Linked DNA regions of Homo sapiens: region 1 is linked to region 2. The links come from fine-mapping of genetic effects on gene expression. Tissue or cell type: whole blood. Region 2 holds a variant in brackets; the other region holds the start of a gene. All regions are shown on one strand. Distances are between the middles of the regions.

Region 1 (8,084 bases), 270 kb after region 2:
GGTGATGGAAAGAGCCTGGACGGACAGTCATGAAGTTGGGCTGTGGTCCAACTCTGCTTCCCGACCAAATAGAGAATTTTGAGGCCGGGTGCGGTGGCTCACACCTGTAATCCCAGCACTTTGGGAGGCCGAGGTGGGTGGATCACGAGGTCAGGAGTTCGAGACCAGCCTGGCCAACATGGTGAAACCCCGTCTCTACTAAAAATACAAAAATTAGCCGAGCGTGATGGCACACGCCTGTAGTCCCAGCTACTCAGGAGGCTGAGGTAGAAGAATCACTTGAACCCGGGAGGTGGAGGTTGCAGTGAGATGAGATCGTGCCACTGCCCTCCAGCCTGGGTGACAGAGTGAGACTCCATCTAAAAAAAAAAAAAAGAATTTTGAGCTAGTTACTCTCTGCATCAGATGCTAATTAATTCCTGCGTGGCCCCCACCCCTACCCCCATGATTGTTGGGGAATAAAATAAAATGAAGGCCAGGAAGGTATGTATTATTACCAGTAAGAACGGAGGCTAGACACCGGGAAGGACTTTCCCTGGAGGAGGGGGTGAAGGGGACGGGCAAGGGCAGAGGACAAGGCCCTCTCCGCCGTTCTCTCCTGGGGTAGGGGGCTGCGGGCTCCTGCGGGCTCCTGAGCGGTTCCTCCTCGCAGGGACACCGGGTGGGGCGCTGTGGCTGGGGGTCCTGCGGCTGCTGCTCTTCAAGCTGCTGCTGTTTGACCTGCTCCTGACCTGCAGCTGCCTGTGCGACCCCGCGGGCCCGCTGCCTTCCCCCGCAACCACCACCCGCCTGCGAGCCCTCGGCTCCCATCGACTGCACCCGGCCACGGAGACTGGGGGACGAGAGGCCACCAGCTCACCCAGACCCCAGCCTCGGGACCGCCGCTGGGGTGACACCCCTCCGGGTCGGAAGCCCGGGAGCCCAGTATGGGGGGAAGGGTCTTACCTCAGCAGTTACCCCACTTGCCCAGCACAGGCCTGGTGCTCAAGATCTGCCCTCAGGGCTCCTTCCTCCAGTCTTGGAGCATTTTTTGCAGGTGACCTGCCTCCTCCTCTGCAGGCTGGAGCTGCCTGAGGGCAGGGCTCTACCTCCCCTGCGTCACACTGTGTGAGGCTGTGTCTCTGCCATCCAAAAGGGGGCCCCTTGAGAATGGTGATCCACCCAGTTACAGGGGCATTTAGGGAGCAGATGACTGAGAACATTAAAAAAGAACTTAAATGACACAGCAAATGAAAAATATTTGAATTCATGTCTATCCTGGGAGGAAGGAATTTGGCAGAGTTAGAAGTAGGAAAAATCCAGGAAAGCTCCCTTGAGGAAGAGGGCTTCCTGAGACAGAACTTGGGAACTGCAGAGTGGGACTGGTGGCTGGGAAGGCGGCTGTCTCCTCCCCCAACAGCAAGCGGGGAGGCCCCCTCTTCTCCTCACCCTGGCCCAACCTCTGTGAGAGGTCAGGGCAGAGAGCCCAGGAACCCAGGAAGGTGGGTGGTGGGTCTGATGTGAACTCTCGTACAGAGGTGAACAGGGCCAGGGTTTCTGGGGAACAGGATCGTTTTCAATAACAAGAGTATGAGATATTAATTCCAAACTTACAGTTTATTAATCAATTAAGAGTCATTATTCATTTGACAAATATTCTTTAAGTATCAACCCTGAGCCAGGTACTAAAGAGGTTTGGCTTTTTTGGTCTGGTTGTTACATAAAGAAGATTCTTGTATTGATCAAGTATGAGGCTTCCACAGTAGAGCATAACGTGTGCGTCCCCTGCTTGCCCAGCGCTGGCAGGAAATCCAGACTTTCCCAAGGGTTCTCTGCTAGTAATCACTCCAAGAGACTCTGGGTGCTGTCATGTAAATCCACCTGTCCCTTGGGCCCCATAGGATAGTCTGCTGGATCAACTTTAGTCTTCCTTCCCCCAGGGAGGGGATGGGGAACTATGCCCCAGCACCCCAACACATGGTTTCAAGGACACCCTCAGCTCCCCTGAGCCTCTGTGCTCTCTCAGCTACTGTTCCATAAAAACTCTCACTGCCTCCTCCACTGCTCATCTCTCACCAGCCTGAAAGGAGATTCTCCCACTTGTTTTGGGGATTCTTGGGTGCTGGTGGCTGGGGTGGGAGGGTCCCATAGCTTCTACGGATGAATCTGTCCACCATCCCCACAAGGCATGTTCCTTCTCTGACACACAGACTGAGGGAGGGTGTGGGCAGGGGCCCAACTATAGCCTCAGACTTTCTCTGGCCACTATCCCTTCCTAGCTGTCCGGCCAGATGCTGAGCCCAGGCTTCTCAATCTCCACTGTCAGGCTGGCTTAATCTTATTTCCCAGGAGGGCTTCTGAGCCGAGGTGAATCAAGGGCCATGGCCAAGCTCTGAGCCTACCCAAGTATTTTATTTTATTTTATTTTATATTTTATTTTATTATTTTATTTTTTGAGATAGGGTCTCACTCTGTCCCCCAGGGTGGAGTGCAGTGGTGCGATCTCAACTCTCTGCAATCTCTGTCTCCCAGGTTCCAGCAATTCTCCCACCTCAGCCTCTCAAGTAGCTGGGACTACAGGCACACGCCACCATGCCTGGCTCATTTTTGTATTTTTTGGTAGAGACAGGGTTTCACCACATTGGCCAGGCTGGTCTTGAACTTCTGACCTCAAGTGATCCGCCTGCCTTGGCCTCCCGAAGTGCTGGAATTATAAGTGTGAGCCACTGTGCCCAGCTTGAGCCAACCTAAGTCTTATCAAGCCTAGAAAACATGGAGGACCTTAGGAGGGTGTCCTGATCTTGTACACTGTGGAATTCCACATGCCACAGCCCCTGCCTATCCAAAGTGCTTTGTTACCAACACAGTTTTGGACAAGAAACTAAAGTCAGAAAGTGGCAAGGCCTGGGCCTCAGTGCTCTGAAGTCTTCATAAAATAGCATAAATATCCAACCTCTAGGAAGGAAACAAGAAGGTATCAGGGAACAGGGTTTTATGGCCAATTTGCAGACAACTTCCCAGAGAAGCAACTTTGGTCTGTGTGCGTCTGTAGGACACTGAGTTCAGGGGCAGCCTAAAGAAGACCAAGAGTGCTCCTCTTTATTTTTATTTGTTTATTTTTATTTTTTGAGACGGAGTCTCGCTCTGTCGCCAGGCTGGAGTGCAGTGGCGCGATCTCGGCTCACTGCAACCTCCACCTCCAGGGTTCAAGCAATTCTCCCGCCTCAGCCTCCCAAGTAGCTGGGACTACAGGCACCCACCACCACGGCTATTTTTTTTTGTATTTTTAGTAGAGACAGGGTTTCACCATATTGGCCAGGCTGGTCTCGAATTCCTGACCTTGTGATCTGCCCGCCTTGGCCTCCCAAAGTGCTGGAAATACAGGCATGAACCATCGCGCCCGGCATTTATTATTTTTGAGATGGAGTCTTGCCCTGTCGCCCAGGCTGGAGTGCAATGGCGTGATCTCGGCTCACTGCAACCTCCATCTCCCAGGTTCAAGCAATTCTCCTGCCTCCACCTCCCGAGTAGCTGGGATTACAGGCGTGTGCCACCACGCCCGGCTAACTTTTTGTATCTTTAGTAGAGATGGGGTTTCAGCATCTTGGCCAGGCTGGTCTTGAACTCCTGACCTCGTGATCCACCTACCTCGGCCTTCCAAAGTGCTGGAATTATAGGCGTGAGCCACCAAGCCCGGCCTCCTCTTTATTTTTTATTTTGATTTATTTATTTTTGAGATGGGGGGGGTGTCTCGCTATGTTGACCAGGCTGGTCTCGAACTCCTGGCCTCAAGCAGTTCTCCCTTCTTGGCCTCCCAAAGTGCTGGGATTACAGACATTAGCCACGGCGCCTGGCCTTTTTCTTCTTCTTCTTCTTTGTTGAGACAGGGTCTCAATCTGTTGCCCAGGCTGGTCTCCAACTCCTGGGCTCAGGTGATCCTTCCGCCTCGGCCTCCCAAAGTGCTGGGATTACAGGCGTGAGCCATTAAGTGTTCCCCTTAATGACACAGCAGATGAGAGTTTTACTGAGTATCTCCTTGTGCCAGGCACCCTGTTGTTGCTGGGGAAGCGGAAGGGAGAGACAATCGTTAATCGGCTAAATTTCTGCCTTCTGAGAGCTCAGAATCAAGAAATAAATAATAGGGCAGTAAAAGGGGCTGGGATTACATACAAAAAGAAAATTAATGCCTGAACTTTTTACAATCTGCTCGATAAGCTTTAATTCTATTAACCTATTTGAGCTTCCCAACAACAGGCAAGCTCCCACAGCAGCTAGGAGGATCACTTTGTCGTCATACAAATAGAAACAGGCTCAGAGAGGAAGTCATTTGTTCTAGTTCTCACTAGGACAAATCTACTGGCTACTAAAAAAGTGTGAAGGCTGGGGACAGTTTGAGTCGTCCTGCTTGCACCTTAAGCGCCTACAAGAGTGCCCGGCTATAACAACCACAATACCAATAATAAAATTTAAAAACAGATGTTCAGTAAGGACTTGCGGCATTAGGACCCCAGGAGGGAAGTGACGTTCGAGGAGGCGGAGAAAGCCGCGAAGACGGCCTTCCCCACATCTTCCAGCACCTGCGCGCCTGAATCCGTCCCACCCAGGCCCAGACGCAGGCTTCTTCTCGGGTCTTGGTCCTGCATCCTCTCTCTCCCAGAGCCTCCGTTAGGGGGTGGGAAAGGACTTTGCCATAGGTCGCTGAGGCCACCATCTGCTCTCTTACTGGCCAAGGGCGTAAAAAGATAGTCTTCCCATTAGCTAGAGAGCAAACCCCAGAAAGCCTATTGGCTGCGCCGTCCGCGGGCCTTGGTCCGCTTTGAAGGCGGGCTGCGGCTGCGAGAGGAGGGCGGGCGGGAGGCTAGCTGTTGTCGTGGTTGCTCGGAGGCACGTGTGCAGTCCCGGAAGCGGCGAGGGGAAACTGCTCCGCGCGCGCCGCGGGAGGAGGAACCGCCCGGTCCTTTAGGGTCCGGGCCCGGCCGGGCCATGGATTCAATGCCTGAGCCCGCGTCCCGCTGTCTTCTGCTTCTTCCCTTGCTGCTGCTGCTGCTGCTGCTGCTGCCGGCCCCGGAGCTGGGCCCGAGCCAGGCCGGAGCTGAGGAGAACGACTGGGTTCGCCTGCCCAGCAAATGCGAAGGTGAGGAGGCGGGGCCCGTGGGGCGTATCCTGCCGGAGGGGCTGGCTCCAGCGGTGGTGCTTGCGGAGCAGCGTCGGGGGTTGCAAGGTTCCGAGCTCTGCAGGGTGTCTTCCTTCCTTGAACAGGCTTGCGCCGGGACGCTGCGGCGGACGAGAGATCTGGTCCCGGTACCCCTGGAGTTCACACATTGGTAGAAACAAGCAATGATAATTCAGAGTAGTAGATGCCATGATAGGGGAGGTACAGAGCTTCCTTTTGGGGGCCGGACGAGGAGCATCTGGTCTAGCCTGGAGTGGGGGAGGGGGTGGGCGAAGGCTGTGTGCAGAGGGGAGTCAAAGAGGGCTTCATACAGGAAGCACGAAGAGGCATTAGGAGTTAGCCGGATGAAGAGAAGTGGAAAGAGAGGGGCCCACTCAGGAAACTACAGAGGCAGAGGCCTGCCGGCTGAGAAGCTAAGAACGAGTTTGAGGAACTGAAAAGCTCCAGATGACTCATCTTGGGGGAAAAAAACCTAAGACTTTCCCCTTTTGCCCTCACTGCAACCCAATCTGTGTAGTTGTCTGTTGCACCCACTAACAACTCCTCGAAGGCAGGAATTTTTGTCTTAGATACGTATTCACACAGTGTCTGGTAGGCACTCAATAAATGTTTTGAGAATACAGATGATTAAATGGGAGACTGTGGGTGTGTGTGAGGAGGAGGATCTGGATCTGAGGAGCCCTTTGGGGGAACAATAGAGCCTATGGGGAACTTGAAAGAAGATTTTAGGACTTTGGAGAAAAGGTGAGTCCCAAAGACATAGGCGTTGAGGAACTACAGAGAGAGAGAGAGAGGGAGCTACCAGCGAGCCAGGACTATAAAGGACCTATTTCTTTTTCCTCAACTCCGTCCCTTAGTTTTCTCCTCAGACCTTACAGTCATGCCTGCCTTCCTAGCCCCGTAACCCCAGGGCCCCCAGAAAGTTGGCTGTGAATCTCTCATCTGAATTGAAAGCCTACATCAGGCCAGATGTTCCCTAAACACTGGAAAGTGGGTTTGGGGTAAGTTTCGGACACATAATCCTTCCATTAGAGAGATTAAAAGGATGCTTTAGAGATAAGCCGACTTCACTGGTAGGGCACCCAGTATGAGTTCAAGCCTGTGCCTTCCCCCGTACATTCTTTTCTTTTTTTCCTTTTTTTTTTTTATGAGACTGTCTGGCTCTGTTGCCCAGGCTGGAGTGCAGTGGCGAGATCTCGGCTTATTGCAACCTCTGCCTCCTAGGTTCAAACGATTTTCCTGTCTCAGCCTCCTGAGTAGCTGGGATTACAGGCGCATGCCACCATGCCCAGCTAATTTTTGTGTTTTTAGTAGAGATGGGATTTCATCATATTGGTCAGGCTGGTCTTGAACTCCTGACCTCAAGTGATCCACCTGCCTTGGGCTCCCACAGTGCTGGGCTTATAGGCGTGAGCCTCTGCTCCTGGCCGCCCTTTCACTTTTCGCTCTTCCTCTAGTCCTGATAGCTTTTTTTTTTTTTTTTGAGATGGAGTTTCGCTCTTATTGCCCAGGCTGGAATGCAGTGGCGCGATCTTGGCTCACCGCAACCTCCAGTGACCCACCCTCCTCGGCCTTACAAAGTATTGGGATTACAGGCATGAGCCACCGTGCCTGGCCTTTTTTTTTTTTTTGAGACGGAGTCTTGCTCTGCCCAGTCTGGAGTGCAGTGGTGCGACCTTGACTCGCTGCAACCTCCGTCCCCCAGGTTCAAGGATTCTTCTACCTCAGCCTCCCGAGTAGGTGGGACTACAGGTGTGTGCCACCACTCCCGGCTATTTTTAGTAGAGACGGGTTTTCACCATGTTGGCCAGGCTGGTCTTGAACTCCTGAACTCGGGTGATCCACCCACCTTAGCCTCCCAAAGTGCTGGGATTACAGGCGTGAGCCACTGCACCCAGCCCAGCTAACTGATAGCCTTTCAGCGTTTCGCTTCCTCTTCTCTTTCTTTTCTGTCTTATTATTATTATTATTATTTTTTTTTGAGACGGAGTCTTGCTCTGTTGCCCAGGCTGGAGTGCAATGGCACAACCTCGGCTCACTGCAACCTCTGCCTCCAGGGTTCAAGTGATTCTCCTGCCTCAACCTCCTGAATAGCTGGGATTACAGGCACCTGCCATCATGCCCGGGTAATTTTTGTATTTTTGTAGAGACTGGGTTTCACCATGTTGGCCAGGTTGGTCTTGAACTCCTGACCTCAGGTGATCCTCCCACCTCAGCCTTCCAAATTGCTGGGATTACAGGCATGAGCCTCCGTGCCCAGCCTGTATTCTGTCTTATTCTGATATCAAAGAGCCCATACTCTCCCTCTTATTATTCTCATAGCCTAAGGAGCTCACATTTATTCTCCTTAGGCAACATTCACAGACTCACGGAAGCATAGAGATGCCCAGGATCTCTATATCTCTATATCTAGAGATCATTCTAGTCTACCCTCATTTGGTAACTGATGAAGATTAATTGAAAAGGGATTTGCAGTCACAGGATGGCTTGGCAAACTCCAACCGTTAGGTTCATCTTAATAGTATATTTGTTTGTATTATTATTACACCTTTGTTATTAAATGCTGACTGTGTCTAGCCCACCAAGCCTGCCTCCTGGCTCAGTAGCCTGAGTGGAACAGGCCTCGGCACAGAGGAAGGAGAACCTGCCCGGAAAAAAAGAGTGGGTGGATGTCAGTGAGGGTCTGGTGTCTGTGCCGTGAATCTCCTGTGAGTCTGGTTCTGGGTGGGATCCGCAGAGGAGGTCTTGAAGAGGTAATGTTTGGAAGAGCTGGAAAGCAAGGCTGTGGTTGATGGGTATGAGAGAGAAAGGATGTTCCAAACCTCCCCTTTCCCCACTCCTGGGGAGGGCGTGGGAGGAGGGGCAAGTGGTGCTAGAAAAATGATGTGCCTGCACAGAGTACAGGACAGAAGAGGGGAGGGAGCCCAGATGG
Region 2 (8,101 bases):
TGTGTTAAATATATACATTCCTGGCTGTGCGTGGTGGCTCACGCCTGTAATCCCAGCACTTCGGGAGGCCAAGGCGGGCGGATCACAAGGTGAGGAGTTCGAGACCAGCCTGACCAACATGGTGAAACCCCATCTCTACTAAAAATACAAAAAAAAAAAATTAGCCGGGTGTGGTGGTGCATGCCTATAATCCCAGCTACTCAGGAGGCTGAGTCAGGAGAATTGCTTGAACCTGCGAGGCGGAGGTTGCAGTGAGCCAAGATTGTGCCACTCACCCCAGCCTGGGTGACAGAGCAAGACTCTGTCTCAAAAAATAAATAAATATATATACACACACACACACACACACACACACACACACACACACACACTACACACACACACACATACCTGTAGTCTGCTATTTTGTGATTATATAGAAAGTTTTGGGATCATTAATTATATTCATAACCTTTGTATTGCAGCCCTGTGGCTTCAGATATGACACTTACAGCACTGGGCCCCGCACAAACTCAGGTTCCTGAACAAAGACAATTCGTTACATGTATATTGTGTCAAGAGGAGCAAGAAGTTAAAGTGGAAAGCAGGGCAATGGTCTTGGCAGCATTTGTTCAGAGATCAACTGTATTATCAAAAAACAGAAGTAAATTTATTCAAGATCCAGGTAAGTCATAGCTAGATCCTCATCTTCCCTTTTAATAACAACTGCCAGTTAATGTGGTTGGTGATACGTTGAGATTTTTTAAACCTAAAAATAACTCCATGGACTTGGATGGTATCTTTGGCAGGTAACTTAGGCAGGAATTCCCCACTTGGCAGATGTGGAACCACTCCAGAAAGTTGCACCTGAATCACATAGCTGATAAATAGCAGGGATTCAAAGAAAAGCTTTTCTTTGTGATGTAACATTACATACTTTGGCATTTCACAGTCTTTTCCATCCTTCAGTACACTTGCAAAGTCCTGGTCATTTGTTGACACACTGAAATAATAATTGTTTTGTCTTATTGATAGAGCCTGAGTGGAATCTCCTGAGAACAGTGATGGAGAGTTACCTATGTAAGAGGCAATCCTTGAGCCAAATTGTTTTAGAATAGTAATACCACCACAGATCGGGTTCCCCAGAAAGCAGATTCTTGGGATACAGATTACCGTGCAGGACAGTTGAGGGCCCTCTTTCAGCAACTGAGGGAGTAAAGCAGGGAGATCCAGTCCGCACATGATTTTGTCCACCACAGACACATTTATTTCTCTGCTTGTAGGTTGTGCTCTGTGTGCGTGTGCTTCAGCGATACCCAGTAAACTTCTTGAGAGTAGGAACTGTGTCTTGGGAATTCCCAGAGCACTGCTTTAACCAGTGCCTTTCACACTGCAGCGTGAAAGGAGGTTTGAGAGCCCACTTTTAGAGTTGCCTTCTCTCTGTAAAGAAAGTCTTTGCATCCTACTTATGAAAGGTTGGTCTGCTTCATCTTTAAAAATGGTCATTTAGGCTGGGTATGGTGGCTCATGCCTGTAATCCCAGCACTTTGGGAGGCCGAGGCAGGTGGATCACCTGAGGTCAGGAGTTCAAGACCAGCCTGGCCAACATGGCGAAACCCCATCTCTACTAATAGTACAAAAAAAAAACTAGCCAAATTTGGTGGCACGCGCCTGTAGTCCCAGCTACTCAAGAGGCTGAGGCATGAGAATTGCTTGAACCTGGGAGGCAGAGGTTGCAGTGAGCCGAGATTGCACCACTGCCCTCCAGCCTGGGCAACGGAGCGAGACCCTGTGTGGTTTTTTTGTTTGTTTGTTTGTTTGTTTTTAAAAAAAAAAAAAAAGGCCAGGCGCAGTGGCTCATGTCTGTAATCCCAGCACTCTGGGAGGCCAAGGCAGGCAGATCACAAGGTCAGGAGATCAAGACCATCCTGGCTAACACAGTGAAACCCCATCTCTACTAAAAAATACAAAAAAAAATTAGCCAGGCGTGGTGGCAGTTACCTGCTACTCGGGAGGCTGAGGCAGGAGAATGGCGTGAACCCAGGAAGCAGAGCTTGCAGTGAGTCGAGATCGCGCCACTGCACTCCAATCTGGGCGACAAAGCGAGACTGTCTTAAAAAAAAAAAAGATATTTAAACTAGGTGCTTTATAAATTTCATTCCAGGCCAAAGACAAAGTTGCTAATTTTATTTAACTTATTACTTCTGAAGAAAAAGCATTAGCTGGCTATAAGTGGATTTTCTTAATGCTTTGACATTTGCACTGTTCTAGTGTTAAAGCAAATTAAAACTATTAAAGCAAATTAAAAGTAGTTCTTTCTAGAGTGTTAGGAAATTTCGAAGATTATACTAATTTATATAAAGAATTCAAAAATTCCAAAAGAAGCCAGACATCCATCTTGTTTTTCATGATTTTTCATCCCCTTTGAATATAAAAATTAGCACCAGGACAGAAGACTCTGAATTACCTTTTTTCCCCCCATCTGATCTGGTCTGTGCTTAGATTTTTTGTTGTCACTTTGGCTCTGATGTGATTATTCGCTGTATGAGTGTTGTTAGGCAGTCTGTCCTCTAGGGGGCGCCCCGTTACTGCCAAAACATTTTTTATTAGCGATCATTTTAACCCAGCTGCCCTGAACGCACATAAGGCAGCCCCATGAAGAGAGTAGCTCTTTTACCTGGAGCTCAGGGTACAATGGGAGGAATTGGAATATCTCAGCACCCTGAAAGTGTGAAATGTTCAAAAGATTGGATATATTTAAATTCATAGTTCTAATTTCAGTTTAACAATTTGAGAATGTTTAATTAATTTGCTGTGGGTGGTGAAAATTAGAGAGTCCTACTTTCTAAATAATCCAAGGTGTTGCATAAATTGGTATCTCAGAGGAATAAACTAGCATTTCATTTCAAATTTCAAGTCTTTATCAAGGATTTTACAATTTAAAGTTACACATTTGTTATAGGAAAATTAAATGCTTCACTTTTGTTTTGTTTTGTTTTGTTTTGTAATGCAGAAAAATATGATCCATTATTCATGCACCCTGATCTGTCTTGTGGAACACACACTAGTAGCTGTGGGCACATTATGCATGCCCATTGTTGGCAAAGGTAATGTATATTCTTAATATTTGTCAAGAGAAGTTTATCTAAGGGCTCAATATTTTTTAAATAGAGGAAATTTCATTCTAGAAAAAAGGAAAAGAACTAAAAATGTTGAAAAAATCCGTATCATTGCCTAATAAATAACAAAAGTTATTTGCCTTGTCATAGATGTAAAGTGTATGTCAGATATGTTTTTTAATTTAGCTTTATATCCAAGTCTCTTCTATATCTTCCAAAGAAGGAAGTGGATCTGTATCAGTCTGTGGATGAAGAAAAGGGTTTTTACAGTAGGATAAACTCTAGAAGGGTAATGTTGTCTTTCTTTGGGTCCAGGGTGGACAACTTTTGATTCCATAGATGTTAGTACTTGCTTTGTTACTTCCCAAAATTGTAATGGCTCCCTGTGATGAGATGTCCTGAATTTGTTCTACCTTGGTGTTTCCTATGCTTCTACAAAACCAACAAATCAATAATACTATTATTCTAGAACTATGCTCACCCAGTTATCATGAACTACCCCTAACAACTAGCCACCACATTGTAGTCCCAGCTACTTGGGAGGCTGAGACAGGAGAATTGCTTGAATGTGGGAGGTGGAGGTTGCAGTGAACCAAGATTGTGCAACTGCACTCCAGCCTGGGCGACAGAGCAAGACTCCATCTCAAAAACAACAACAACAACAAAAAAAAAACAAATAGCCACCAGCCTTGGGGAAGTGGCAAGAGAACAATGACACCAAGAAATTTTTGTTGCTGCTTTGTGAATGCTTTTTTACATGGCAGTCTTTTTTTTTATTTTACTCTTTTAGAACTTTTAATCCATTTGGATTTTTAAAATCACTCAAAAATCATGTTAAAAATAATTTAGTTTAAGATTTTCATTTTTGAACTATTTGTGGAAACAAATTATTTTAAATGTTGAAGCTTATGGCTGTCATTTATGTAAATTACCATTGTTTTGATACCTCATGTTCTCTAATTGTAAAGGTATTTTGATTCCGTTCAAGCTAAAGAACAGCGAAGGCAACAGAGATTACGCTTACATACGAGCTATGATGTAGAAAACGGAGAATTCCTTTGCCCCCTTTGTGAATGCTTGAGTAATACTGTTATTCCTCTGCTGCTTCCTCCAAGAAATATTTTTAACAAGTAAGTTTTGGCTCATGACAACTATTACAAAGCAATAGTTTGCTTTGAAGATAATGAAATAATAAATCAAGGAGGAAAACTTAGTCTAGGCAATTGCATAGTGTTTTCCAGATA[C/T]TTTCCAAACTCTAATCATTTTCTTCTAGCAGACCTGTGGAATGTGATTTTAGTTTTTAGAGAGGAACAGGTGAAAATTTAACAGTTTCTAAGCTATTAAATTCCTATGTATTTATGAAAACCAAGTATCTGGTTTATTTCTAGGGACCCTACTTTTAATATCTTCCATACACTTTTCAAGAGATGCTCAGTAAACTGGTAGAGGGAGATGGAACAACTCAAACTGACTTTATAGGACAGTCTAAAAATCGAATAAAACTTTTTGCTGTACTGGCCATTCATAGTTTTAAGAACCAGGCAAAAAAGTGAAAATCTGTTGGTATATTTTAAATGGAAAAATCTCAGCTGGGCGTTGTGGCTCACATCTATAATCCTAGCACTTTGAGAGGCCAAGATGAAAGGATCATTTGAGCCCAGGAGTTCAAGACCAGCCTGGGCAACATAGTGAGACCCTGTCTGTACAAAAAATAAAAAGTTAGCTGGATGTAGCGGCATATTCCTATAGTCCCAGCTACTTCAGAGACTCAGGTGGGAGGCTCGCTTGGGTCAAGGCTGCAGTGAGCTTTGATCATGCCATTGCACTTCAGCCTGAGTGACAGAGCAAGACCCTGTCTCAAAAATAAAATAAGTGCTTGCTTCAGCAGCACATATACTAAAATTGGAACGATAAAGAGAAGATAAGCATGGCTCTTTCACAAGGATGACACACAAATTCATGAAGTGTTCCATATTTTTAGCTCTTTTAGAATTTGTCTAGCAGACTAAAAAAAAATAAGAAAAGAAAATGGAAAATTTCTGTAACTTCACAGTTTTTTGGATGCTTTTAGTTACGAGTATTGGACATACTCATTTCGAGTATGAATTTGATAATGTCTGCTTTTCGAATCTGAACTTCATTTCTCAATGTAGAATTATGCTATCTACGTTGCATGCACAAATACTAAGTTATGTGAGTATAAACGATCCATTTCTGTGTTATTTGGATTCAGTTCAAAGCAAAGTCAGTTTTTTCTTGTCAGTTTTAGGAGTTCAAACTTTGGTGTTCTTAGTCTATGCTACCACAAAATGTTCTTAAAATATTAGTAGATTTGAGTGTAAGCTCATGCTTTTTAATTATAAAAGAATATCGTGGTACTGACTTATCTGCATTTGAACTGATGAAGAAATTAATTATTGTTAGATGGAGGATTAACTGTGTATAAGAAGAAATCACCCTTGTTGGATTTCATCTGTCACTTTATTGGTCCAATTTTTGGGTTTTGCCCATGAGATTCAATTATGGTTTAGTCATATTCGAATACAATCATAAAAAGAACACAGGCTTTGGAATCTGACAGAGCCAAGTTTGAATGCTAGCTTTGTCCCTTATTCGGCCTTAGTCAAGTTACATAGCTCTAAACCTCAGTTTCCTCATCTGTAAAATGGGGACAATAATAAAACCTATTACAAAATATAGGAATACAACCTATGCAAATAATAATACAACCTGAAACAAAATGTAGGGATATTTTGAGGATTAAGTCTAATACCATAAGATATTTACAGTAAAATTCCTTACTAAGTGCTTGTAACATAATAAGCACTTGGTAGATATTAATAGTGATGGTGATTATGATACTTAAGAAATTCTAGCAAATTCCAATACTGAAGAGTGAGATTTTTAATACACAGTGTTATTACCATCATATTGACAAATAATATATTCCTTTCCATTGGCCAATATCCTGATTTTTTTTAATGCAACAAATTTTCCCTTATCCTTTTTGTTTTTAATATTTGGAGTGTGTCTAAAATATGCCTGTGATCATTTAAGGAGTCTTTTGTATCTTAAGGAACAATAATAAAACACTAAATACTCTCTATAATCTTTTCTAGCAGGTTAAATTTTTCAGACCAACCAAATCTGACTCAGTGGATTAGAACAATATCTCAGCAAATAAAAGCATTACAGTTTCTTAGGAAAGAAGAAAGTACTCCTAGTAAGTTCTGGTAACCTGTTTTCATTTTTCCCTAAAGTCCGAGGTCATCAGAAAATGTATTTCCAGAAGAAGTTGTTTAAAAGTGAAACCTCCCATTTAAAATTTTGACTCATTCTAATTTTCCTTGTCTTAATAAACTAAATTTGACTTTACTGCATTACTCCTTATTCCTTAAACACACAAGCTCATGTGAAGTTTCTAATAAACACTTCTCACTTATTCCCCCATTTTATTGAAGAGCTTCTGGAGGTGGGGGAGATGTAACTGAGTGTTGCAGAGCTAGCTTTAGTTCTCGGTGGGCTAACTCACCTTACTGTTGGCATTACCAAAGGCTTCCCAAGTTTCATAGACCATGCACTGCACTTATGACCTTGTGGGAACGTAGTATGAACAGGATTTATATCATTGGTTTTCATAGAAACAGAATAGCTACTCTTGTTTTTGTTTTAGTGGCTGTACTATAAGGAAAAGCATAGTTAAGAAAGGGCCTTGGTCAACTAGAGCAATAACGTTTTCATGCTTCATATGGTTGTTATGCCAGTTTTTATTAGGGAATTTTTTTCCTTTTGTTTTTGATTTCTTTGACCTATATGGCTGTACTTTTAGGAATATTGTCATCTATTGAATAATAGTATAAAATGCCTGTTTCTATAGATAATGCCTCTACAAAGAATTCAGAAAATGTGGATGAATTACAGCTCCCTGAAGGGTTCAGGCCTGATTTTCGTCCTAAGTGAGTATATTATTTTACTCCTTTAATATTTGACCCATTTGAAATGAATGATTAAGTCAGCAGTTAGGAGGAATATGATTTGGCAAGTGAGGGAGCAAAATGTTATAGGATACTGATCTTTAGTTGTAAGGTTTAAGCAGAGGCTGAGACAGGAGGATAGTGTGAGCCCCAGAGGTGGAGGCTGCAGTGAGCCTTCATTGCACCACTACATTCCAGTCTGGGTGACAGAGTGAGACCCTGTCTCAACAACAACAACAAAAAAAGTTTAAGCATTACTTGATGGTATTTATTGCAGTACATTAAAAAAATCTAAGAACCATGTGGCATGTTTAACTCTCACCACCCTCTCCTAGTCAGCATTGCTGACCCCTGCCACACCCCTTTCTTTACCTGGCTCTCCTTGACAACATCTAATCAGTAATTCTAAATACAAACTGCTCAGCCTCCCCAATGAATCCCGCACTTCCGTCTGACTTCAAAATTTCTATTAATGACCTAACCAAGCTCTTAGTAACCCAGGATTAAAACCAGAATATTTTCCACCCTATTTTACCCCATAGCCAGTTAGTTACAAGGTATAGCATAGATTCTGGAGCTAGACTGGTTGATTCAGTTCCCAGCACCACCACTTATTAGCTGTGCAACTTTGGGCAAATTGCTTGACCTCTGTGTACCTCAATTCCCTCATCTGTCAAGTGAGGATAATTCATAGGTGTTATTAGGATAAAGTGACATAATGTACGTAGAGCTACCTGAAAGCTGTGCCTGGCATGTACCAAGTAACTCAATAAATACAGACCTAAAGACTTGAATAGAAAAAAACATCATGCCTATAATCCCAGGACTTTGGGAGGCCATGGCGGGCAGATCACTTGAGGTCAGGAATTCAAGACCAGTCTAGCCAACATGATGAAACCCTGTCTCTACTAAAAATACAAAAATTAGCCAGGCGTGGTGGTGCACGCTTGTAATCCCAGCTACTTGGGGGGCTGAGGCAGGAGAATCGCTTGAACTTGGGAGGCAGAGGTTGCAATGAGCCAAGATCAT

Evidence for each region. PIP is the estimated chance that this variant, and not a neighbour inherited with it, causes the effect.
Region 1: CNPY3 starts here. The variant in region 2 is fine-mapped to the expression of CNPY3 in whole blood (TOPMed, PIP 0.97).

What each region holds. Positions count from the first base shown.
Region 1 is chr6:42,924,609-42,932,692 of GRCh38, forward strand. CNPY3 (canopy FGF signaling regulator 3) reads left to right here and starts at 4,872. Exons shown (of 6, transcript NM_006586.5): 1 at 4,872-5,113. The coding sequence starts at 4,963. It overlaps PTCRA (pre T cell antigen receptor alpha), which reads left to right. Exons shown (of 4, transcript NM_138296.3): 4 at 653-1,230. The coding sequence ends at 1,074. It overlaps CNPY3-GNMT (CNPY3-GNMT readthrough), which reads left to right and starts at 4,872. Exons shown (of 5, transcript NR_134892.2): 1 at 4,872-5,113. RefSeq lists enhancers at 4,265-4,766, 4,351-4,400, 4,411-4,460, 4,767-5,268, 4,911-5,170 and 1 more.
Region 2 is chr6:42,659,192-42,667,292 of GRCh38, forward strand. It overlaps UBR2 (ubiquitin protein ligase E3 component n-recognin 2), which reads left to right. Exons shown (of 47, transcript NM_001363705.2): 30 at 465-664; 31 at 2,993-3,086; 32 at 4,067-4,228; 33 at 6,218-6,321; 34 at 6,976-7,054. It also overlaps the pseudogene RNU6-890P. Among named protein-coding and RNA genes, the nearest start is that of PRPH2, 59 kb to the right of the region's middle. The variant C/T (reference allele first, on the strand shown) is at 4,343.